Linked DNA regions of Homo sapiens: regions 2 and 3 are each linked to region 1. The links come from fine-mapping of genetic effects on gene expression. A gene starts in region 1. Each other region holds a variant in brackets. All regions are shown on one strand. Distances are from middle to middle. Region 1 holds the start of SLC38A4-AS1 (SLC38A4 antisense RNA 1). Region 2 overlaps SLC38A4-AS1 (SLC38A4 antisense RNA 1). Region 3 overlaps SLC38A4-AS1 (SLC38A4 antisense RNA 1).

The links. PIP is the estimated chance that this variant, and not a neighbour inherited with it, causes the effect. A credible set is the group of variants that fine-mapping cannot tell apart.
Region 2: its variant is the best candidate, but not a certain one, in a credible set for the expression of SLC38A4-AS1 in lymphoblastoid cells (GEUVADIS, PIP 0.84).
Region 3: its variant is the best candidate, but not a certain one, in a credible set for the expression of SLC38A4-AS1 in whole blood (INTERVAL, PIP 0.86).

Annotation. Positions count from the first base shown.
Region 1 is chr12:46,380,069-46,388,254 of GRCh38, forward strand. SLC38A4-AS1 (SLC38A4 antisense RNA 1) reads left to right here and starts at 3,608. Exons shown (of 4, transcript NR_125380.1): 1 at 3,608-3,627; 2 at 7,679-7,904. RefSeq lists enhancers at 2,972-3,479, 6,173-6,674 and silencers at 3,034-3,393, 3,544-3,613.
Region 2 is chr12:46,411,865-46,420,050 of GRCh38, forward strand. The region is part of intron 2 of SLC38A4-AS1 (SLC38A4 antisense RNA 1); the gene reads left to right. Among named protein-coding and RNA genes, the nearest start is that of SLC38A4-AS1, 32 kb to the left of the region's middle. The variant C/CTT (reference allele first, on the strand shown) is at 3,258.
Region 3 is chr12:46,478,686-46,486,871 of GRCh38, forward strand. The region is part of intron 3 of SLC38A4-AS1 (SLC38A4 antisense RNA 1); the gene reads left to right. The region is part of intron 1 of LOC124902923 (a long non-coding RNA gene); the gene reads right to left. Among named protein-coding and RNA genes, the nearest start is that of SLC38A4-AS1, 99 kb to the left of the region's middle. The variant A/G (reference allele first, on the strand shown) is at 4,961.

The DNA.
Region 1 (8,186 bases):
AAAGCAACAATAATTTATTATCTCTCGAAGTGTCTATGAATCAGGAATTCAAGAGCAGCTCTGTTGGGTGTTCTGGCTTTAAGTCTTTAATGAGGTTGCAGTCAGCTGTGAGAGGGCTCTAGTCATCTGATGGCATGACTGGGGCTGGAAGATCTTCCAAGGTCATTCACATGTTGGTAAGTTGGTGCTGGCTGGTTGCTTCCTCTCCAAGAAGGTGTCTGCACAACCCTGACTGAATGTCTTCATGACATGGCAGCTGGCTTATCCCAGAGCAAGTTAGCAAGAAAGAGCAAGGCAGAAGCTGCAATGCCTTTATGAACTAGCCTTGGAAGTCACACTTTATCATTTCTACCATATTCTATCAGTCACAAAGGCAAGCCCTGATTCAACATAGAAGGGGACTACACAAGGGAGTGCATACCAGGAGGTAAGCATCACTGGGGGCCATTTTGGAGGCTGGCTACCACAGAGAAGTTGTCAGCAGCAAGAATATTTTTATTTTATTATTTTATTTTATTTATTTATTTATTTATTTATTTATTTATTTATTTATTTTTATTTTACTTTGAGACAGGGTCTCACTCTGTCGCCCAGGCTGGAATGCAGCAGTGTGATCAGAGAGCCCAGGTTCAGGTGATTCTCCCACCTCAGTCTCCTGGGTAGCTGGGACTATAGGCACAGGCCACCACGTCTGGCTAGGCTAATTTTTTGTAGAGACAGGTTTCAGCCAAGTTGCCCAGGCTGATCTCAAACTCCTGGGCTCAAGCAATCCACCACCTCAGCTTCTCAAAGTGCTGGGATTATAGGCATGAGCCACTGTGCCCAGCCAGAAAACATTTTATGGCAATAAACACAATATGCAATTGAAAGTGGCTTAAATAATGACACTATCTCACATAATAAGAAGTATGTAGAGAGCACAGTTCTGGGGTTAATTCTTGGCCCTGATACCTCCCTCCAAGACAAAGAGCTCATTATATTTTCACTTTGCTTTCTTCAACATGCTGGGGATCTCTCCCATCATGGTCACATGTTGGCTGCAGTGGTTTTAGGGGTCATAGGCAGACAGGACCACATCCATTGCAAAAGAAAGGAGCGTCATTTTGTGAGTTAATTTTATTTTGAGAGATAACATTTCCTGGAAATGCTGTTATTGTTGTCTCAGATCCCACTGGCCAGGACTGGAAAACATAGTAATGCCTAAAAAATATATTATATTGTAAATCCATATATTTGCAAGCATCAGTATTTTGTAAATGCATACCTCATTTTTCAGCAAGAAAAAGAAAATTAAGGGGCCCACAGAAACTCAGTCTTAAAAAAATTTAGAAATATGGCTGGGCGCGATGGCTCATGTCTGTAATCCCAGCACTTTGGGAGGTCGAGGCAGGCGGATCACCTGAGGTCAGGAGTTTGAGACCAGCCTGGCCAACATGGTGAAACCCCGTCTCTAGTAAAAATACAAAAATTAGCTGGGTGTGCTGGCAGGCGCCTGTAATCGCAGCTATTTGGGAGGCCAAGGCAGGAGAATTGCTTGAACCTGGGAGGCGGAGGTTGCAGTGAGCCAAGATCGCGTCATTGCACCGCAGCCTGGGCGACAAGAGCAACACTCCGTCTCAAAACAACAACAAAAAATTTAAAAAAATTTAGTTTTACAGATACTTTAGTACAAACATACCCAATTCTGTCAAGACTGAAGAACTTTCCAGGGACCTAGTATCAGAACTCTGTTTCTCCCATCTCCTTCCCAAATAAAAGAGGGGAAATAACGGCTTGACTAATGACCTTCTTGTGATACTTACCTGTTGGCCTTTTCATTTGACCCTGGAATGGTCTATTTTGCTAGGTGTAGTATATGCCAATGAATGTGAAAGAAAACAATGGCAGAGAGATGAAGGATTTATAGACAATGGTTCTTTGGCTAGGTAAACTGACACCTGCTAATTACCAATAAGTGTCTTGGAAAGTGAAATGTGAAAGCAAAATCACAGATACGATTCTCATATACATGCTTAAGGTTATTCAGAATGTGGTAAGGTCACAGCAACAATCAAGAATTAAGCTAAAAAACAAGCTGTGTATATTCTTAGTAAAGAAAATAGAAGTTTTATTGAAGTGCTCCATTGTTTTAAAAAATTAAAAATTTCAGATCCTTACAATTTTCCAAAACAGGATCATTAAAAAATACCTTTATTTTAATACTTGTTAGGGGTCTTCTTGTCTAAAGAGAAATGACAGTGACTGAAAGAAGGTGTGCTACCCAAAGCACTCGTAGGCCACGATGAACCTACATTCCTGGCCTTCAGTCAGTTTCCGGATCTTTCTTTGCCCAGGGCTAAGATACTGAAATAACGATTTATTAAAATTAACACACCTGCAATTCTGGTTCTTAGATGGGAACCATTTAATATATGGGCTTGGTTCTGAGATCTTTACTCAATAAAACTCCCAACTGTTTTGACTGACATCGTTGGCACTTCGTGACTGATTAAGGCACCTGCCTCCGGTTCCATGTCACTTCGTCTTGGGACACGTGGCGCTAATGCCACTTTTCAACCCCCCACCCCATTCAGCGACATTAACCCGGGCGACAGTCCAGGGCTAAACAGTTGCTGAAACAGTTAAATGTGTGTTTTATTGAGGTGAACCACGTACACAACAACCCCCTTTGAGTGAAACAATTTTGTTGTGTAACCATTTGTCACTTCTACATGGATGAGGTCAACGAAATCCTCAAAGTTGCTGTCTCAGGAATAAATTTTGTTCGTGGTTGGGAAAACGAAGTGGAGAATGTTATGGGATAGAGAAAATAGCTTATTTTCTCAGTGGTTAAGTGGGAGTGGGTAAAACACAATTGGCCTTGCATGTGCTTTGTTTAAACGGCGGTGCAGTAATTCTAAATGAGAAGACAAGACGCCCATCGTCACCGTCTTCTCCCTTTGTCTCACATTCCGCCCGGAGATGTGGGGGGTCTCACTCAATGCGGAACGGAGGTGGCGGGGGTGCGGCGCCCCAGAGGCGAAGGCGGAGGCGCCAGGACGCCGCTCCTGGCCTCTCAGGATACCAGCAGGCTACACGCAAGGTCGGGGGCAAGGCCGCGTGGCGGCTTGGAGCCGCGCGAAGGAAGCGAGGGCTGGCGGCCCCAGGGCAAAGGGGTCTGGCGGCGCCAGCCTGGGGCGCTGCAGCGGGCGGGGCGTGCGCAGCGCCGCTCCCCGGAGAGAAAGGAACCTCCGCAATGTCGGGGCCCGGCTGCGACCGGAAAACGGCGGGGGAAGAGAGAAAAGGAGGAGGGAGGGGGAAAAGGAGGTGGGGATACGAAGGAGCGGGGAGGCGGCGGGCGGGGCCTGCGGCGCGCAGCCCCAGTAGATCTCCGGAAATTTTCCACTAACGCTCCGAGCGCCAGAGCCGCCCGGGCGCAGCCCGCCTCTGCGCGCCCGCGACCCACGTGACGGTGATTCATTCGGCACCGCCTCCCCAGCCCGCGCGCGGACTTGGAGCCAAGAGTGGGAGCAGGGGTCGGGGGGAGGAGAAGGTGGAGGAGGAGGCGAAGAGGAGGCGGGGAGGAGGCGGGGAGGAGGGGGGAAGGGTTCGGGGAGAGGGAGGAGGGGAAGCAGAGGGGACGATGAGGTGCGGAGGCGTTGGCAGGTACCTGGGCCCCGCCGCCCGGGTGTGTGGGGGTCGGGTCGGGGGTCCAGCAAAGCCCCATCCAGTCGAGCCTGGGCAAGCTGAGAGGCTGTCGGGTGCGCTCCAGTTACGCTCCCCTGCGTCGTGGAAAACCTAGAGAGCCCTACAGCGTCAGGGCTAATCCCGGGACGCCTCGAGGCCCCGCGGAGTTTTCGCGAACGCGCCGGGCGGTGCAGGGATGTCCTGCTTGGGAGAGTGCAGGGTTGGAAGCGGGCACGCCCTGTTGGCAGCTGCCGGCGCTTGTGTACGTGGCTGCTGACGTGGAGAACTGTAGCTGTGGAAAGCCTGCGCCCCAAGGAGGGACGCGGGGGTGCAGTCGCGGCCCATTATCTGTGCCCGGGAAGTCCTGAAGGCTCTAGGAGCTGTCAGATTAAACCCCCAGACCCACAAGAAAATCCCTGAAGCTTCGGTGAGCGTGGGATTTGGCGTGCAGTTGGTTCCGTATGGTTCCCCATTAAGACTTGGAAGTCGGCTTACCAAGATTTCCTCTTACCCTTCGGCTGTGTTGAGTAGATATTACACAGACACCCCGCCCATGACTCTGCTCTTGCAGGAAAACATTTATTTCAAAAATACTGCAACGGTTTCATCTCTCATGTCCTTTTAGGTTCTTTCTAGTAATTGTGAACTTTTCCTCTCAAGTCATTCCATCAAAGTCTTGGAAGCAAATGAAAAAAACATACTACCCTGAAATAGAGTTCACATCTTTCTTTACCAACTTGCCTTTCCCAGGAAGACATCGTGGTGGGTTTGCAGTTCAGGTTTCCTCACAGCCTCTCCTGGGGGTCTTTTTCCCTCTCTGGTACCTTGAGGCATAGGACAGAAGGGAGCTGCTGAAGTTTCTGGATGTCGCTTATTTTTCACATTTGTTTTAACTTCTTTTGGCCAGAACTGTGTATTGTTTTCGCATAGATTTCTGCAATTAGAATTATTGTAATTAGAAAGAATAATAATCTTCATATAAGGCTTAGGGTACGCACTACTTTAAGGTCTTTGTAAATGTGTGCATATTCATTTCTCTCATCAACTCTGAGGTAGGGGCTATTCTTACCCCATTATTGACCTTTTACAAATGAGGAAACTGATGCTTGGAGAAGTTAGATAACTCGCCCAAGGCCATTCCTTCTCTAAGAGGAGGAACTGGAATTTGACCCCAAACTGTCAGGTAAATCCAATGCTTTGTTCACTATGCAATAGAAATTCTTTATTAATAAATTTAATTGTGTTGAAATATTAAGTTTACATTTTGGTGGGATTTTCCCCCTCGTTTTATTAAAGTGGCCTTCCTGAATTTTATTGTGGAGGGATGTTTAAAGTTAGTTTGGGTAGAAAGCCACACACAATTGTAAAAAGGAAGTCTTATGAAGAAATCATGCATTCCAAGGCAGTGTTACATTTTTCTTAAAGGGTAGATTATTGAAATATTTGACCTAAGAACTCATTTTTTTTCTCAGGAGAAAGGTTTGTCTTCATACACCTTTAGCCCCGAGCAAATGGTGAATCCTCCAGGAGAATGACGATGAGGCTTTTTAGTCTTCAGGGTTCGATAAATATATATCGATTGAAATGTATTCAAAAAGTGAATACCCTTGAAAGGACGATGACATAATGCCAAATGAAAAGGAAATTTCCCAAAGAAACCTAAATAATGGATAGATTTGATAGCAAGATACTACTGGTTTTTTCCTTCTGGAACCTTCTTTTCTGCACTTGAAACCTTCCCTGTCCAGCCAAGACTGGGTTAGAAGCTCCTTTTGTGTGTTCGTGTGGCACCCAAGGTCTGCCCCTGTAGTGGTACTGACCACGGTGTATTCTCGTGGCCTGTTCACCTGGCTGTGCTTCCCAGGAGAGTAAGTGCCTGGAAGAGCAGGCATTCTGTCAGGCTCAACAGAGTGCAACAGCGTGTCCCCAGGGCTCAGGACAGTTGTTTGTCCTAGAGCTATGGGAGTTATTGAGCTAAGCAATACTTGTTAAAAGCATGAGCTTACACAATTGATCAGCCATGTCTTGTTAGGATGTACTGAATTGGAATTTAGCAGAAACTGGGAGAGCAATGTCCCCGTCAGGAAATGTCTGTTCAATCTTGGTCTGTGTATATCCTACTTACCCACATGTTATTTTGCACATAATAGTTTTTTTGATGTTTATTAAGAACAAAAACAGCCTCTTTAAAATTGTGTGTTCAGTTAGCTAACTGTATTTCAGCATCCAATTAATAATCAGAGGTTTAATAACTACAGCCTTAATTCTGGCCTCACAATGATAGAATGATAAAATCATAGGTTTTTTTTTTTTTTTTTTTTTTTTGGCTGAAGGAGATCTTATAACTGCTCTGTCCAATACACAACCACTGGCCACATGGCTATTTGAATGAATTAAAATTAATAAAATTGACAATTAAGTTCTTCAATAGGGCATTTTAATTGCTCAGTAGCCACATGTGACTACTTAAATAAAATTAATTTTATTAATTCATTCAAAAATGGACAGCACTGACAGATAGTTCCATTATTGTAGGAACTGTTATTGGACAGGGCTGATAAGTTACCGAAGGAAAAAAAACAGGTAAAAGAAGATATTTGAGATAGCTTAGCATTAGCATTGTTACATACAAAGAACATTACACTCATATTCAAAGTGTCTGCTGTTAGGTTGGTGCAAAAGTAATTGCGGTTTTTGCCATTACTTTTAATGAGGAAATATTTCGTATATGATAAACAGTTTTCCTTAGCAGTTGTACCTAAATTAATGCACATTTAAACATATTCAGGAGAATGAATGGTTCAAAAGGATTCCTTTTTGCATTCCTTTAAAGTGAATACTCATTCCAGTTGATCCTTTGTGAGTTCTATTTTTTTTTCTGTTTAAACATACTGAAATCAACTTGAGTCACTACACAAGTTTGACATTCATTAGATTTGGCTGTGCTTTTTAAGCTCGCATGATTGAGAAACTAAAATACTCAGTAATGTTGGTAAAGGACAAATGCCAGATAGTTTTGGACAGACCAAATATATATTTAATGACATCACACATGCAATACAGACAGTTCTCAATTTACAAACACTCTTGAGAAGCAGCCATAGGTTAAATATAAAACATACTGGGTGTACCTTCTTTAAAATCCTCTTAAGAACAGTACCACCTGGATATCCATTGTATGAACAAATTAGTATTTAAAAATAATAAAAATAAGTCTTAGAATTAGAGAATGTATAGTTTTGAGCTGTGGAGGCAATAAAGAGGCTGTGTAAAACTCAGGGGGAGTTAGTTGAGGTTATTTCCACAGTAGAGCAGATTTGCTTAAGTAACCCCCTGACAAAAATAGCTTAGTTCCGCCTCCCCGCAGCATGCCTGCCCCTCCCTGCTGTGTGCATTTCCCCCAGTCCTTCAGTCGTTAAAAATTTTCCCATTTCATTTATACTCCAGTTTCAGTTCCGTTGATTCAAAGTTTTGGGACTTAGGACAAGTTTGCTAGCTTCTCTGAGCCTCAGTTTTTTAAACCGTTAAATAGGAATAACAGCATGCTGAGTGCCAAGAATTAAAGAAAAATTTATGTGAAAATATAGATTAGAAAGAAAACTAATATAAATGCAGGGGATTATGATCATAATACTCATAAAACTTCAGTACTCCCTGGGAAGATCCAATGGCCGTCAGTCATGTGCACGTGATCAGAATCTGGGCCATCATATTTTTTTAAGCAAGTTGATGGCCTGAGGGTTCTTGGCCAGGTGGGAGGAGGCTGCTCTGGGATGTTGAAGAGAGATTTTAAAAAGGAGATGGAAGGCTGTGAAAACATAGTTCAAATTGGAGGGAGCTTGGGCAGATACCACCTTTTCTTTTAAGGAATGAATGTAATTGCTTGCATTTTGTCTCTACTTCCTTCCTCTCATTGATTTATTCCGAAGGCTAGAGTTTCTACTTTACATTCTAATTCATCTGACATAGCGTGTTTTTAAAAAACTTAGCATTGCTTGCTTTGATTTTCCAGTTGACTTTTGCTGATGGAGCCTCTCTGAAGGGCAAATTCAAAGTACAGCTGGGTGCTGCAGCACTGGAGTGCGAACTTGTGGCTGTGGTTATGAAGGAGCCTCGTCAGCTATGCCTTTAGCCCCTGGTGAAGCAGTGCCAGTCACACTTTGCCAGTCAAACGGAGAGGCAGCAGTAGTAAGACCAGACCAAATCAAACCAAACCAAGCAAACCACGGGGAATGGAGGTAGGTGAATAGCGCCAAAGAGAATGATGGCTCACAACACTTCTAAGCATGGTGCATATATCAGTTCATTTAAGCCTTATGATGACCCTATGGGGTCAGTACTATTATCGTTATTATCCCCAACTGAGGCACAGAACAACTGTGTGACTAAGCGACTGTACTCAATGTCACACCACTGTTAAGTGATAGAAGTGACATTTTAACTCAGGCAGCTGGATCTGGAGTTTGTCCTCTTAACTACTACATTAGCAATTCTCAAACTTTTGGTCTCAGGACCCCCTT
Region 2 (8,186 bases), 32 kb after region 1:
AGGGTAAAAGAGCAGAAAAATACAGAAAGAAACTGAAGATAGAAAAGGGTAGGCTAGGATAGGGAATATATTTTGCATCACCAATTATTTCTGGTACAACCCATCTTGAGCCAGTATACCCCGCTATTACCCCAGCCACAGGTATCTTCTTCTTTTTTTTTTTTTTTTTTTTTTTTAAGCTTAACCAAGATAATGGATTTCAGTGGGCTCTCAAATCAGAAAGAAATGGGGCTGAAACATTTAGGCAGTGAAAAGTGTGTCACTATTTTTCCTTCCTGTAACCAGGTCAAGAGTTCCGGTAGGAACATGGAGCCTGAGCTGGTAAATTTGAATATCTGATCTTCCAGGCTCGGAGCAATGAATAGTGGTTATAGGGAAAGGAATCGCAGGAGGTAAGATCAATTATGTAATGAGGGGTAATTATGCAACAGGTCATACATCAGTTTGGGAGAGTTGTACACATTTTATGCAGAGCAAGGCTGGGTAGACCTACTACTGCATAGGTAAATGTAAATTACCCAGTTGACTTCAGTGGGTAGAGTTCTTGTCTGAGCACTGCTCGGTTCTCATAAACCTTTCTTCTTTCATTCTCCTCTGATGTCTTCCTGGATTAATAGCAAGAAGGAGAACAGGACAAAGGAATACTTGGTCTTTAAAAGAATAAGCAATTTTCTATAGGTAGGCAGCAAAGTGTTAACCTTTGGTCCTTTCACCCTAGAAAGAAAGAAGTCCTCAGACTTTTGCCATTCATGATGCTTTTAGCAATACTTTTATTTAAATCCAACTCAGTTTCTGAATTATCATGACTTTAATAAAGAGTCTGCATTGGGGCGCTTAAGCTTTATGGTAAACGAAGTAACTTTGTATCATAGAGGTTACAGAATTTAAGTGTCAATTGGATGAGTTCCATGTATTTCCATTCTAGAGACATCTCCAAAGAGAAAAGAAGGTACATGAAAAGAAAGAGGAAAAAATAATGAGCAATAATGACTCAAGTTAAGGGGAAACATTTTTTAAAAAGCGAAACACTAATGGCAATTGATAGATTTGATTTTTATTTTAGTGGAAAGTCCATGAGCTTCTTCTTAATCTCAAAGGATAGTACAATTCATTTGGATTGTCTTGTATACACAGTGATGGTCCACTCTGGTCTACTGCCAGCATTTTGTTGCCAACTTCATTCTTGGATGGTGGGGATGATGAACAACGCGGCATTCCACTCCTGTTCCCAGTGTGGTCCATCTGTGGCACTTTCTGTCATTCAGTTTCCAATTTGCTTTAAATAGTTTTATTTACTCTAAACGAGGATGGTGCTATGTTGCCAGTGACAGGCTCTTCACCTCCATCATCACAGAAAATGTTGTCAATATAGAATTAGAGAATAAAAAAACTAACAGGTAGAAGTCAGATAAAGCCAGTGACTTGCACAAATGGCAGCGTGAAAATCTTAACTTTATTAATTTTGAGTGTGCTTTGTATTTCCAGACTTTTGCTAATGTGGTACATAGCTTCTTAAAAGCAAGGCTCATTTTCTCCATACTCAAGGAAGAAGTAACTCTAGTATTTTATTTTAGTGGTTTAGTTTCAGCATTTTAAAAAATCCTTCCATATTATCTGTTACCCAATTTGCTAAAGAATAGCACAATAGGTACTAAAGTTCAGTGAACTGGTCCAAAGTTTCAGTTCACCTCATGTTTATTGACTCTTCTTATTGTGTTCTGACACTGGGGTTATAAAGACGACAAAAGTGTAGTTCCTGACCTCTCTCACCAAGCTCGTAGCTTAACCAAGAGAGACACAAAAAAAGAGACAGTCCAAGTTGAGACATTGTTTATGCTTCATAATAATTTTGGAAGAAACAAATCAAGTGCTAGATTTCCTCTTGGCAAGAAAGAAGGAGATGGAAAGCCACAAGAGTAAGTGGGAGAGGGGAAATTTGGTGGTGGGTGCTGTGTTAGAATTATAGGAGAGTGAAGTTTTATAGGAGAGTGAAGTTTTTTTAGCATTTTTTTTTTGCCTTCAACTTTATATATAGGAAAATTTCAGGCTTACAGGAAAGTTAGAAAAATAGTACAGTGGGTACCCATATGCCCTTTATGTAGCTTCAGCAGTTGTTAACCTTTAGTCACATTCATTTGCACTATCCCTGGGTATACTTTTTTGAACCATAAAAATAAGTTGCAGACATCATGACTTTTCACCCCTCAGTTGTTTAACGGCATCATTACACTTATAAAATAAATAATAATTCCATGATATCATCTAATACAGAATCCAGAGTTTGGATTTCTCTTATTGTTTCAAATATATCTTTTATAGTTTTTTTCCCTCCCTGATTCATGATTTGACCAATATTCTTACATTGTACTTAGTTGTTGTGTCTCTTAGTCTTTTTGGATTTATGTTTTTAGTTTCCTTTGTTTTATGACATGGAATTTTTTGAGTCTATGCTGGTTGTATTGAAGAATGCCCCATATGTTTGATTCATCAGATTATATCTTCATGAATAGATTCAGGTTAAACATTTTTGGCAAGAATCCCACAGATAAATGTTGTAGTACAACAGCTATAAATTTTAAATTTATGGACTTCATGGTTATATGTGTATGTATATGTCTTCTACTGGGGAAAAGGTTGTAGTTCTTACCAAATTTCCAAAGATTCCATAAGACCCCCAAAGGTTAAGAATTAGAGATGGAGTAAGTTGTTATTAGTGGGAGGTAAGTAGGTATTTAGTCTACACTTATATCTTAAATCATTAGATTTTATTTATTTTTAAACACGGCATTTTTACTGGTAGGTTTTTTAAAAAAGTAATTCATATACATGATAAAATTCAAGTAATACAAAAATATTAGAGTGCAAAATGTCTTCTGACTCCAGTTCTCCAGATTCCTTGTTGTTCTTGGCAAAAATAACCTGTATTTCCAGTTTCTTGAATGTACCTCCAGAAAAATCTGTGTATAGCTGGGTATATTTGTGGATATGTGTTCTTTTATTTATTTATTTTACACAAATAGGAGAATTTTACAGTGGAGATGTTCTATAGGTGAATTGACTTATATTATTGTAATGCATATATGTGACAAAACAAAAATAGTATAAAACAAAACAAACCAAAGCAGGAAAGAATCAATGCTGCTGATCCACATGACATTCTACTTGATGACTGAGCAGGAGACAGTCACACCAGCATGTTGCTCCTTTAGCTGGACTCACTCTTAGCATGCACAGCCCTGAGCCTGGGGTGAGGCTAG[C/CTT]TTTTTTTTTTTTTTTTTTAAAGTGTATTTTACTGTGGTAAAAACATTTTTTAATCTTTCTTTCTTTTTTTTTTTTTTTTTAGAGACAGGGTCTTGCTATATTGCCCACACTGGACTCAAACACCTGGGCTCAAGCTATACTCTTGCCTCAACCTCCTGAGTAGCAGGGACTACAGGCATATGCCATTGTGCCTGTAGGTCTCACATTTAATGTGAGATTTGCTCTCTTAACAGATTTTTGAGTATACAATACAATACAATATAGGCACAGTGTTGTACAGCAGATCTCTAGAATTCATTTGTCTTATATAACTGAAGGTTTATACCTATTGAGTAGCACCTCACAATTTCCCCTTTCTCCCAGCCCCCAGAAACCCTTCTGCTCTCTGTTTCCATGAGTTTGACTGGATACTTCATATAAGTGGAATTATACAGTATTTGGCCTTCTGTGTCTGGCTTAATTCACTTAGGATAATGTCCTCCTGGTTCATCCATGTTGTAGCAAATGGTTAGATTTCCTTCATTTTTAAGGCTGGATAGAGGCTAACTTTTAAAGACTGTATTTATCACAAACGTGGTCCCTGTGCGAGCCAGCTTCATCTGGTGTGCAAATGAAGAAATACAAGAGCCTTTTAGTGCCAAAGGAAACACTAGCTCTGTGCAACATTTACTGAGGGAGTGTTCGTAATGCTTCCAAACTGGCATTACCCTGGGGGATCTTTGAGGGACATTAGGATTATATTAAATTTTAGCCTTACACACTGACTCGAGAGCCCCTGGTAAGGTGCATTCCATGGCTCCTTGTTCAGCTCCATGCTTTTTGAAAGTTAACAAGATATCTTGGTTCTTCCACATCAGCACACAGAGATCTACTTTATTTTTTAAAATAACTAAATGGTATTCCATTGCATAAATGTACCAGGATTTGTTCAGAATCTGTCCTCCATTGATGGATATTTAGGGTTTTTTTTTAGACTTTTGCTGCTATAATTATAATGCTACAATGAATGATGTGTCTTTTTATAATACATTTTGGGGATTTTGTATGACCAAGTGACCACAGGAGAACAATTAGAATATTTTTGCTATATTTACTTAAAAATATAAAATTTATTTCCTTTTTTCGTTACTTTTGAATTGAAACTTTTGGTCCTGATTCCTATAATTTCAGCTTTTCAAAATTGAGTTTAAAAAATAATACTAATTAATTACCTTTAAAAAAATCCCACATATTAGCATAATGTCTAAATCCATTCAGTGGCATTAGGACTCCAAAAGACAATTTACCAAATATCTCTACTACTTACTATTTATTCAACAAATATTTCTTGAGTGCGTGCCTCTATGTGCCAGGGATTATATTAAGGATTTTAGTAGATTTTATATTTCCTAGTTTTATTAAAATTGTGCTTAATTTAAGATTAAAAGCTACTTGTTAGTTGTTCATTTATTCCATTTATAATTGCTCATTTATTCCGTTAAGTTAACGAGGTATTTGTATATCAGTGAGGTGGAGAGGAGGGGAAAGGTAATATATTTATATTAAAAAGTTCACTTAATGTATTTCCTAGATAGCAGTTATAAAAGGTAGGGTTTCTTTTTTTCTCCTTTCCCTCCTTCCCTCCCTCTCTTTGTTCCTTCTCTGTCTCTCCAATTTTAATAATTGGTATTATCAGTCCTTCCTCATTCATCTTCTTATTTTTCCCTAGATGCTTTTTCCTGGCTCTTATTGCTTTTTTAGATTTACGTAGGAACTTTAAAATCAACTTGTTTAATTTGAAAATCCTACTAATAATTTTGGGGATGTGATTCACAATAGAGTATTTATAAAATAGCTCTGAAAGAATCAACATCTTTTTTTTTTTTTTTTTTTTTGAGGTGGAGTCTTGCTCTGTCACCCAGGCTGGAGTGTAGTGACTCCATCTCGTTTCCTTGCAACTTCTGCTTCCCAGGTTCAAGCAATTCTTCTGCCTCAGCCTCCCGAGTAGTTGGGACTACAGGTATCCACCACCACTCCTGGCTAATTTTTGTGTTTTTAGTGGAGACTGGGTTTCACCATGTTGGCCAGGCTGTTCTTGAACTCCTGACCTTAAGTGATCTGCCCGCCTCGGCCTGCCAAAGTGCTGGGATTACAGGCATTAGCCACCGCACCGGGCCTAAGATGCCAAGTCTTTAAAATGAAAAACATAATTCAATTTGCTTCAGTCTTTAAAAAAATTACTGTTAAGTTTGTCTCTTGGAATTTTTTATCTTTTTGCCCTCTTTGTGAATAGAATGATTCCTTCTATTATGTCTTCTGGTTGTGGTTCAAATGTAAGAATAGTATTGATTTTTCCATATTATATTTCTTACCTGGGCCCCATGCTGGATTCTTTCACTATTTGTAATAGTTTTTCAGCTGATTCTCTTGAGTTCTCCAGCTAAGCAATCATTTTATCTGCACATATCTCTAAACAATATTAAATAATGGTGATGCTAAGTTGTATGATGAGGTTAACTTTTTTTTTCTTTAGACAGAGTTTCACTCTTGTTGCCCAGGCTGGAGTGCAATAGTGTGATCTTGGCTCACTGCAACCTCTGCCTCCTGGGTTCAAGCAGTTCTCCTGCATCAGCCCCTGAGTGGCTGGAATTACAGGCGCCCACTACCACAGCTGGCTAATTTTTTCTATTTTTAGTAGAGACAGGATTTCACCATGTTGGCCAGGCTGGTCCTGACCTCAGGTGATCCACCTGCCTTGGCCTCCCAAAGTGCTGGGATTACAGGCATGAGCCACCACACCTGGCTGGCTAGGTTAACTTCTTTATGTGCACATTCTCTAACAAAGTCTCCCTGGCTAATTGCTTGACCGAAAGCAGATATAAGCTGTTAAACATGAACACAACCAAACCTGTCACTACAACAAAACAGAACAAAACAAAACATGCAAGTAAAGAAAAACTGTTCTCCAAAGGCTTTGAGAAATATGGGATTATGTAAAGCAACCAAATCTGTAACTTATTAGCATTTCTGAGAAGAGAAGGTAAGCAACTTGGAAAACATATTCAAGGATATAATTGAGGAAAATTTCCCCAATCTTGCTAGAGAGATCAACATGCAGAGACAAGAAATCCATGGAACTCCTCCAAGATACTATATAAAATGACCATCCCCAAGGCACATAGTTATCAGACTACGCAGGGTCATGGAAAAGAAAAAAATCTTAAAGGCAGCTGGACAAAAGAGTCGTATTACCTGTAAAGAGAAATCCATCAGACTAACAGTGGACTTCTCAGCAGAAACTTTACAAACCAGAAGAGATTGCAGGCCCATTTTTAGCATTCTTAAAGAAAATAAATGCCAGCTAAGAATTTCATATCCCACCAAACTAAGCTTCATAAATCAAGGAGAAATAAAGTCTTTCCTTGATCTTCAATCGCTAAGGGAATTCATCACCACCAGACTGGCCCTACGAGAGATCCTTAAAGGAATTCTAAACAAGGAAACAAAAGAACAATACTTGCTGTCACAAAACCAGACACAAGCACATAACTCATAGATTCTATAAAGCAACTACACAATTGTGATTACAGAGCAACTAGTTAACACCAGTGTGACAGGAACAAAACCTCACCTATCAATATTAACCTTGAACATAAATGGCATAAATACTCTATTTAAAATATATAGAGTGGCAAATTGGATTAAAAAAAAAAAAGATGCACCTTTCTAGTGTTTTTAAGAGACCCATTTGACATATAATGATGCCCAGAGTCTCAAAGTAAAGGGATGGAGAAGGATCTATCACACAAATGGAAAGAAAAGAGGAGCTCTTCTTGTATCAGATAGAATAGACTTTAAACCAACAACAGTAAAGAAGGACAAAGAAGGGCATTACATAGTGATAAAGGCTTGAATTCAACAAGAAGACTTAAGTACTCTAAATAAATAGGCACCCAACATTGGAGCACCCAGATTTATAAAACAATTACTTCTAGACCTAAGAAAAGACTTTGACAGCCACATAATAGTAGTGGTGGACTTCAACACCCCACCGACAGCATTAGACACTCATTGGGGCAGAAAACTAACAAATTCTGGACTTAAATTCAACACTTGACCAATTGGACCTGATATATACATCTACAGAACACGCTACCCAACAACCACAGAATGCATTCTTCTAATCTGCAGATAGAACATACTCTAAGATTGACCACATGCTTGGTCATAAAGCAAGTCTCAATAAATTTTTTTAAAAACCTGAAAATCAAGCCAAGTATCTTCTTAGATCTCAGTGGAATAAAAATAGAAATCAATACCAAGAGGAACACTCAAAACTACACAAATACATGGAAATTAAATAACTTGCTCCTGAATGACTTCAATGAAGTTAAAGCAGAAATAAAAAAATTCTTTGAGACAATGAAAATAGACACAACATACCAAAACCTCTGGCATATGGCAAAAGCAGTGGTAAGAGGAAAGTTTACAACACTAAATGATTACATCAAGAAGATACAAAGATCTCAATTAACAACCTAAACTTGCATCTAAAGGAACTAGAAAAACAAGAGCAAACTAATCCCAAAGCTTAGCAGAAGAAAAGAAATAACTAAAACTAGAACAGAACTAAACAAAATTGAAACCCAAGAAAAAGTACAAAGGATCAATGAAATGAAAAATTGGTTTTTTGAAAGGTTAAACAAGATTGATAGACTGCTAACTAGACTCAAAAAAGAGAGAAGATCCAAATAAGCACAATTAGAAATGAGAAAGGTGACATCATCACTGATTCCATAGAAATACAAAAGATCCTTGGAGACACTATGAACATCTCTATGCACATAAACTAGAAAATCTAGAGGAAATGGAGAAATTCCTGGAAACACACAACCTCCCAAGATGGAAACAAGAAGAAATAGAAATCCTAAACAGACCATTAACGAGGA
Region 3 (8,186 bases), 99 kb after region 1:
AACCCCATCTCTACTAAAAATACAAAAATTAGCAAGGTATGGTGGTGGGTACCTGTAATCCCAGCTACTCGGGTGGCTGAGGCAGGAGAATCACTTGAATCCGGAAGCTGGAGGTTGCAGTGATCAGAGATCATGCCACTGCACTCTTCAGCCTGGGTGACAGAGTGAGACTCTGTCTAAAAAAAAAAAAAGTGCTGAGCAAAGAGGGAAAAGCCCCTTATAAAACCATCAGATCTTGTGCAAACTCACTCACTATCATGAGAACAGCAGCATGGGGGTAACTGCCCCCATGATTCAATTACCTCCCACCAAGTCCCTCCCATGACACATGGGGATTAGGGGAATTATAATTCAAGATGGGGTTTGGGTGAGGACACAGCTGAACCATATCATTGGGCCTGATTAATCACCTTATTGCTGAATATTCCACCTGAGAGCTCTGTGGGCATTTCAAACTCAGCTTATCCTGTATTGAACATTCAAAGGTTGTTCCTCTTCTGTGCTTCCTATTTCAGTGAGTGGCACTACCATTTAACCTGATGTTCATTTTCCACTCCTTTCTCTCCCTCATTCTACCTTCCTATCAATTGCAAAGTCCTGTCATTGTCATTGTCCCTTCTAGATATCTGTAGAATATGTCCACTGGTCTACATCCTTGTAGGATATCTGTTTAATTCATAGACTCATAGTGGTTTCTTTGCTTAGTCTATTTTTTTTTACGCTGCAGCCAGAGTTATTCTAAAACATAAATACATCCAAACCACTCTTTGGCTTGAATCTAACCATGTTTCAGGTAGTTCTCAGATTAAAGTAAAAACTTTTTTAACAAGAACTTGCAAAACCCCTTTTTACCAGACTTTGTGCCATACGCAAACCTATTTTCTGCAACTTGAGAATGCCTTGCTCTCTATTCTTCAGTTATCTGCAAATAGTATTTCTTCTGCATAGGATTTTCTTTACTCCATCCTCCCAACCTTTTGGATGACTTCCTTGATCCGTAGCTTAAGCATCACTTCTTCCAAGAAGCCTTCCTGACTCCCTGGGCCATGTTTGATTTTCCATCCGGTTGCTCTCAGTGCACTCTGAACTCTTCCCATGGTAACATTTATTATGCCATACCATAATTACCTATTTACAAATATGCACAAAGATAGGAATCAGTTTACCATGTTCATTTGTGCATCCCCAACTTCTAACACAAATCCTGTCATCAAGCAGATGCCCAATTAATATTTGCTGGATGAATTAAAGAGAAATAACTTGGATTCAGGTATTAATGATAATTGATTATTATTAGCTATTGGTTCATATGAATAGTTGGTGTTCGTTGAGCATGCTTAACATTTTATTCTATCTCTTTCATCCTTAAAACAACCAATTAAAGACCGGCAGTATTATCCTCACATTACAAATTAAAATCTGAAGCCCCTGAAAGTTTAGAATAACTTGCCCAAAGTTATGTAACTGCTAAACAACAAAATCAAAATAACCTGGGGCTACCTAAGTGAAACACTCATTCTTTTAATTTCTATACCAGGTATGATGAACTTTCTGGATCTCTTTGTTCTCATAGAGCCTTCACAGAAGGTGGGTAACCAGAGAGGGATGTTGCTTAAGTCAGAGTCATCCTGAGCTGAGCCGTTATCTGTTCACCTATAAGGCCAGCTTCCATTTGCTGGGCCTGAAATGGAGCTCAAGACTTCAATATTTTCTTCAGTTTGTTTGGATGTATGTCAAAAAGCTTTTCTGAGAGTAAGCCTCCTAGTAGGTGCTGACCGAATGCTCCAGCAGTGGGCTCCTGTGTACCAAAGGGACATTGATTGATGGTGTCCACAGAGAGAGGGACACGAGGAGTCTGGAAATTGAGGTGTTGATCATGCTTTGTCAGGAGGCATTTTGCATTCTCTTTGTGATTACTAATCCATTTGGGGAGTGGCCTTGTTTTTCATAATATTTCAGGAACTACCACAGTGAATTGTGATCCTGGGATTTACATTATCATTGTAGCTCAGTGGAAATTCTGATAGACTATTGTTTCAGGACATTTTGGGGATTCATAGTCTAGTGATTTGATGTGACTTTAGGGATTTTGATTATGCCATTTTGGCCTGTGCCAGTCATCTTTATGATGGGTTGAACAGTTAAATAGAATGTCTTCCTCTTGTAAAACTCCAGACATATGCCAGATTTCATCTCATGTATTCTTCACTGCATCCGTCTTGGGCAAGAGAGTGGCAATTGTTCATTCTTTTACAGTGAGAAGGACAATGGGGGCCAGAGAGGTTAATTGGCTTACCTCATTGGGACATCCAGATTACAGTAGCTCAACATCATGAGTTTATGTTTCTGAATCAGACTATTTCATCTTACTGGAAGTGAAATGCACACTTTATATTTAAGGGTCCACAATTCTTCCATATATTTGCATTCATTCATTCATTCATTCAATGACTATGGAGAAACTACTCTATGCCAGGTACTGAGGATAGAGCAGGAAATAAGACAGACAAGCTGTTAAGGAACTGATATTCTTATTGAACAGAGGGAACAGAAAACATCACGTAAACATATTTAAATTTTTCATTTCAAATAGTAATGTTCTATAGATAAAATAAAAACAGAATAACAGGATAGAAGGTACCTGGGATAGATGAAGAAACAATCACCAAAAAGCTTCCATTAGTTGGTATCATATGAGCTAACAGCAAAAGGATGAAAAAAGCCAACCTTGAAAAATCTAGAGGAGACCATTTCAGACAGAGAGAACAGCAAGGGCAAAGGCCCTGAGGGTAGAATGAGACTAGCATGGTCAAGGGCCAAAGAATAGAAATGCCAGATCTTACAGACCATGGTTCAGAGGGATACCTTAGAGGATTTTTAAGCAGAGAAGTGATGGGGAGTTCATCTTTGTTATGACAAGATCTCTTCGATTGCCATGCAGAGGTGGACTGAAGGAGGCAAAGTATGAAACAGAATAGGAAGAGATTATTGCAGTGGTTCAATGGAAGATCATTTTTTATTTTTAGTACTTAATTATGTGTCAGACATTGTAAGTGCTTTCCACACGTTTCTTATTTAATGCTCACAAAATTCTACAATGTAATTATCTTCATTTTTTTAGATAAAGAAATAGAAGGTTCAGAAGTTTAAATATCTCATACAAGGCCACTTAATCTAAGTGGCAGAACCAGGATTTAATTTCAAAGTCTGTACTGTTAAATGTTCTTTTCTAGCCCTGGCATATCTTAATTGTCTGCTGGGCCATTCCCCATGGATGTCCCTAAGACACTTTCAACCTATTATATCCAAAATCAAACTCATTGTCTTCTTCCCTAAACCAATTTTTTCCCCTTAGTTCCTCAATTATATTAATGGCATCACTCAGACTCAGTAATCCAGGCTAGGAACACTAATGTCTTCTTAACTGTCTTCACACTGTGCTTTTCTTCATTAATCTGCATCAAATTTGTTGCATCCTTTTATCCATTTAAAGTATTATCTATCCCATTTCTATTCTTACCCTCATTGCCTTGGTTTGGGTCAGTTCAACAATTCCAATTCCAACTGACCCAATTGGGGAAATTTATTAGTTCCCCAATTCCTATTTCTGTCCTCTGTAATCTATATTCATCTTGCCTTTGGGTTTAGTTCTTATCCTAAACCCAAGTTACATTATCCTCTTCCTTTTCAAATTCATTCCCCATTGGTCCCCATTGCTCTTAGAATGGAATTCACTCTTTTTAGCATGGCAGTCAATTTACTAATAATGGGTAGTTCATTTGTTGCTCTGAAGATTGCTTATTATTTTAGCTTTGACTTACTTTTTTTTGCCACTGATAACTCTCACCACATATAACCAGTCATGCAAAGAGGAAGGTTAGGAACACGCAGTCCAGCAATTCCTGATTGAACTGTTTAGATGTCCAGCATGAGCTATGCTAACCAATGGATGAGACACAGTGTTCAAGGGCCAATAGGTGTTTCCATAGCCTCCTGGTAGAGCTTGTTGACCTAACAGGTCTGGGAAGCCACTCAACTGGATGCATTTTTGTTGGATTGAATTGCATGGAAGGTATACAAAGAAAGACCTGAGTTTTAATGACACACCAAAAAGAAAAGGCAGCCAATTCTTATGGATAGGAGTCCTTTTATTTAAAAAGTAAATGGAGATTTCTGGACAGCAGGAAATGCCCATTGCGTGTGAGATTTATCCTAATTCTATATTCAGTTTTGTTTATAGGCAACAGGTCCCTGTGGGTTTAAGTACTGAATAGAGGGCTAAGAAACAGGGGAACTGTGTGGTTATTTTCTGAGTTGAATTTTCAGACTTATAATTTAGGGATTTAATTCTGGTTGTTAGAAACCAGCCAGCATTCTCTGTCTTTAAGCACTGGTAGTCACCAGGCAAATATAAGGTGAAGTCTTTTCTGGCTTAACCCCAGTAAAGATTTCTCAAATGTATGGTGGTTTTTTTTTCAGAGATGTTCTCTGGCCTACTAGATAATGAGAAAGAACATTTAATAATAAGTTATTTTGTTCTACCATTTCTCATTAAAGAAATAAGAATTTTTAGTCTGTTTTCAGTGATGCTGAAGGAGATAAATTGTTTTCTGCTAGTTTTAAGAACTGTGCTAGCAGTTGTTCCCTTTTTTATTTCACAGAATAAATAATAGTTTTTAAAGATAAGGTAGCAAAGCTCCGTATTTTCTATATTTGATTTTAAGGTGGAGGATAATTTTTTAATGTCTGTAGTATAAGTGAATTATAATTTTAAGCAAAATATACATGTTTAGCTGACAATCTTGTATTGTACAAATAATACTATAACAACAATAACAGAAATCAACCAAGAAAAAAAGAAAAGAGAAAAAAGTCTCTTATCTTGCCATTCTAAAATCAGCTGTTTTAATGTTTCCTTCCAGTTACTGTCAATATGTTATCTAATTTTCACATAGTTACA[A/G]TCTTAGCATAGACAAGACTTTATAATCTTTTTTTTGCGTCTAATGTTACATAAGCCTTTTTTTTCCACACCCACTTCACATTTTTAAACCCTAATGTGCTTTTGTAATAAAATTGCTAGACAATAATAGATTTCTTCAAAAAGGGTCACTAAGTTCTGGAAATGAAAGGTTTTCCTTGGATTTCTCAACATTACCATATTGTGGTGAATCACACTTTACTGTTTCAGCTAAAGACAACAGTCTGCCAGGGGTCAAACAGAGCTCCTAAGATAAACAGTCCTAGGACACAAAGGGCCATAACATCATCTGTGAATGCTGAGACCTCAATTCTCCTTACCTGTTCTAACAAGAGTACAAAGCTCATTAGATTTTACCCTTATGTCATTGAAGCTACTGCCTAATTTAATGGCAAGTAAAGTAAATGCATCTCGGGCCTTTGGTTTGCTACATTTACTAGGTACTCAATAAAATAAAGGCCATTGATAACTTTAGCATAGATTCTAATGACAATGCAGAACCTACTGTGCATTCAGTCTTCCCAAAGCTCCCAAGCTATTCCACCAAGGGAAAGACCGTTTTGTCATTAGAGGCAAAGGGAGGGTTTTTTCTTTTTTTTTAAGAGACAGGGTCATGCTCTTTCACCCAGGGTGGAGTGCAGTGGTGTGATCATGGCTCACTGCAGCTTTGAACTCCTGGGCTCCAGGGACCCTCCCACCTCAGCCTCCTGAATAGCTAGGACTGCAAGTGCGTGCTAGTACTCTTAGCTATTAGTACAGGCCTGGCTAATTTTTATTTTTATTTTTTTTTGTAGAGATGGGGGTGTGAAAGGAAATGAAATCTTGGGACCCTAAACTCATTAAGCCAAAGGGAAAAGCTGGGCCGAGAACTGGATGATGCAACCTGCTTCCACCTTTTTGCTTCCTAAATAAGATGGCTACAAGATGAAAAGCTATACATCTCTGCCATATTTTGCCCACAAGGAAATTCCTAGTGAGCTTCAAGATCTTTTAAGGTGTTTCTGTTAAAATTTCACAATTTCGCCATTGCAATGTAAATTTATAGCTTATCCTTACAGGTGCAGTCATCTCCCTGCCCACCAGACACAAAGGCATATCTGATTGTTCTCCTGCCCCATTTTGTCTATGTTATCTTATGTAAAATACAGATACCCTGCATTTTTCCTCTGCCCCATTTGTCTATATCACCTTATATAAAAAAATGCAGAGTCACTGAGCCGGACAAAGGCATGAACGACTATTTTTCCCTACCCCCGCTCTTACATGAAAATTGTGTACTTCTGAATATCCTGCCCTTTCCCCTTTAAATTTGGAGCCCTCAGAATCATCTTCAGAGAAAGGCATAGACCTGTCTCCCGGGCATACATCCTTAACTGTGGCAAATAAACCTCCTAAAATGATTGAGACTTGTCTCGTCATTTTTCTCGATTGATATTGGTCTCACTATGTTGCTCAAGCTGGTCTCAAACTCCTGGGCTCAAGTGATCCTCCCACCTCAGCCTTTCAAAGTGCTGTGATTACAGGTGTGAGCCACTGCACACGGCCAGGAGATGTTAATCAAAGGGTTTACATGCTGTAAAGGCGATGTATAAAGAGTTATAGGGATCTTTCGTTTGCTTTTCCTCATATTTGTTGAGAACTGTGTAGGAATTTCCCATGGATTTGATATTTGCCCATTAACAGACACCAAGAGAAGTAGTCAGAAAACATTCCCTAAAATAAAGTGTGAGCCAACTCAGTGGTCTTCTTTGGAAGAGACCTGAGGGGAGGGAAGGTCACGTAGTGATAAGCAGGGATGCAGACTATGGGGTCTGACTCATGAACTTCATATGTCACAGTTAATAGTCAGAAGACCATGGAAGGTCACATCCAGGCACAGGGACCTGGTGAGGCGTGTGTGTATGTATCTACAACACAGAAATTAAGATGCGCCAAAGAGAGCAAGTGACAGGGCTCTCTCCCTATTTCTCACTTGGCATATGAGATGACCTTCAGGAGCTTCTGTTCTGTATGTCCCATTTATTAGACCAAAGTGTTCTAGAGTTTAATGTGCTAATATTCATAAGCTTTGTTAATTACAACATTATCATCTCTGCTGTCATCATCTTCATCAGCCTCAGCCAGGGAAGACCGAATGTCCTTGGCCAACGAGGCCTGCAAAAATATGAATTTTACCTCAGGCTCGCCTAGTTTTTAAAAAATAAATATTGCTGATAATGATTTACTGGCATTCATAGATGAGATGACAAACTGCTCATCAGGCCCCCACTAATGCAAGGACGCAATGGCCAAATGACCAAATACTGGGCTGTTGCTTACAGGACAAGCTGGATATGCTTACTTCCACTCTAACCACAGCTGGGCTACTGTGGTTTGCTCATTCATTCATTCCTTCATTGAGGAAGTACTGGTAGAGTGTCTACTCTGTGTCAGGTATTGTGCTAGAGGCTGGGCTCTCTGCACGAGCAAAGCAGGCGAATCCTGCTGTCAATGAGCCTTCTGGTGGAGAAGACAGGTGTATTCTAAAAATCTCATACGTAAGTGCAGAAGTAAATCTGTGTTGGGTGCAAAAAAGGAGACTGCGGGTGCAGAGGAAGGGGTGGTGACCTGGGCAGAGGCTTCTTCATGAAGTGATGATTGACCCATGGCTGGAAAAAAGATTAACAAAAAATTGCAGACATTTACGAAGTGGGCATTATGTGCCAGTCTCAGATTTTAGTGCTTTCTATGAATAATCTCTGTGAAGTATGGACTCATGTTAACATACAGGTGAGAAACTTAGGCTTAGATACAGTATATAACTTGTTTAGGACCCCCCAGTGGGTGAGTAGAGGAGTGGGTTTTGGAACTCAGTTTGATTCCAAAGCCTGGGGTCCTAATCACCATGATATAATGCTGTCTTCTATTCTCCCTGAAGTAGAAGTTAACCAGGTGGAAAGGATGGTGGGAAGGAAGTACCAGGCAGGTGGAACAGCATGTGCAGAGCCCAGAGGTGGAAGAGAACTGGAATTATGTGAGGAAGCACAGAGAAGACACACTAGCCAGGGCATGTGGGTGGGGGAGAATGTGGGGTGAGGCAGGGAGGTGGGCAGAGCCAGGCCACATATTGCCTGAACAGTCAAGTCAGACTGTGGCCCTGCCCAAGAGGAAGTCACTGCAGGGATCTAAGCAGGAGTGACCATGATCAGAGTTGAGTTTTGAAAAGGTC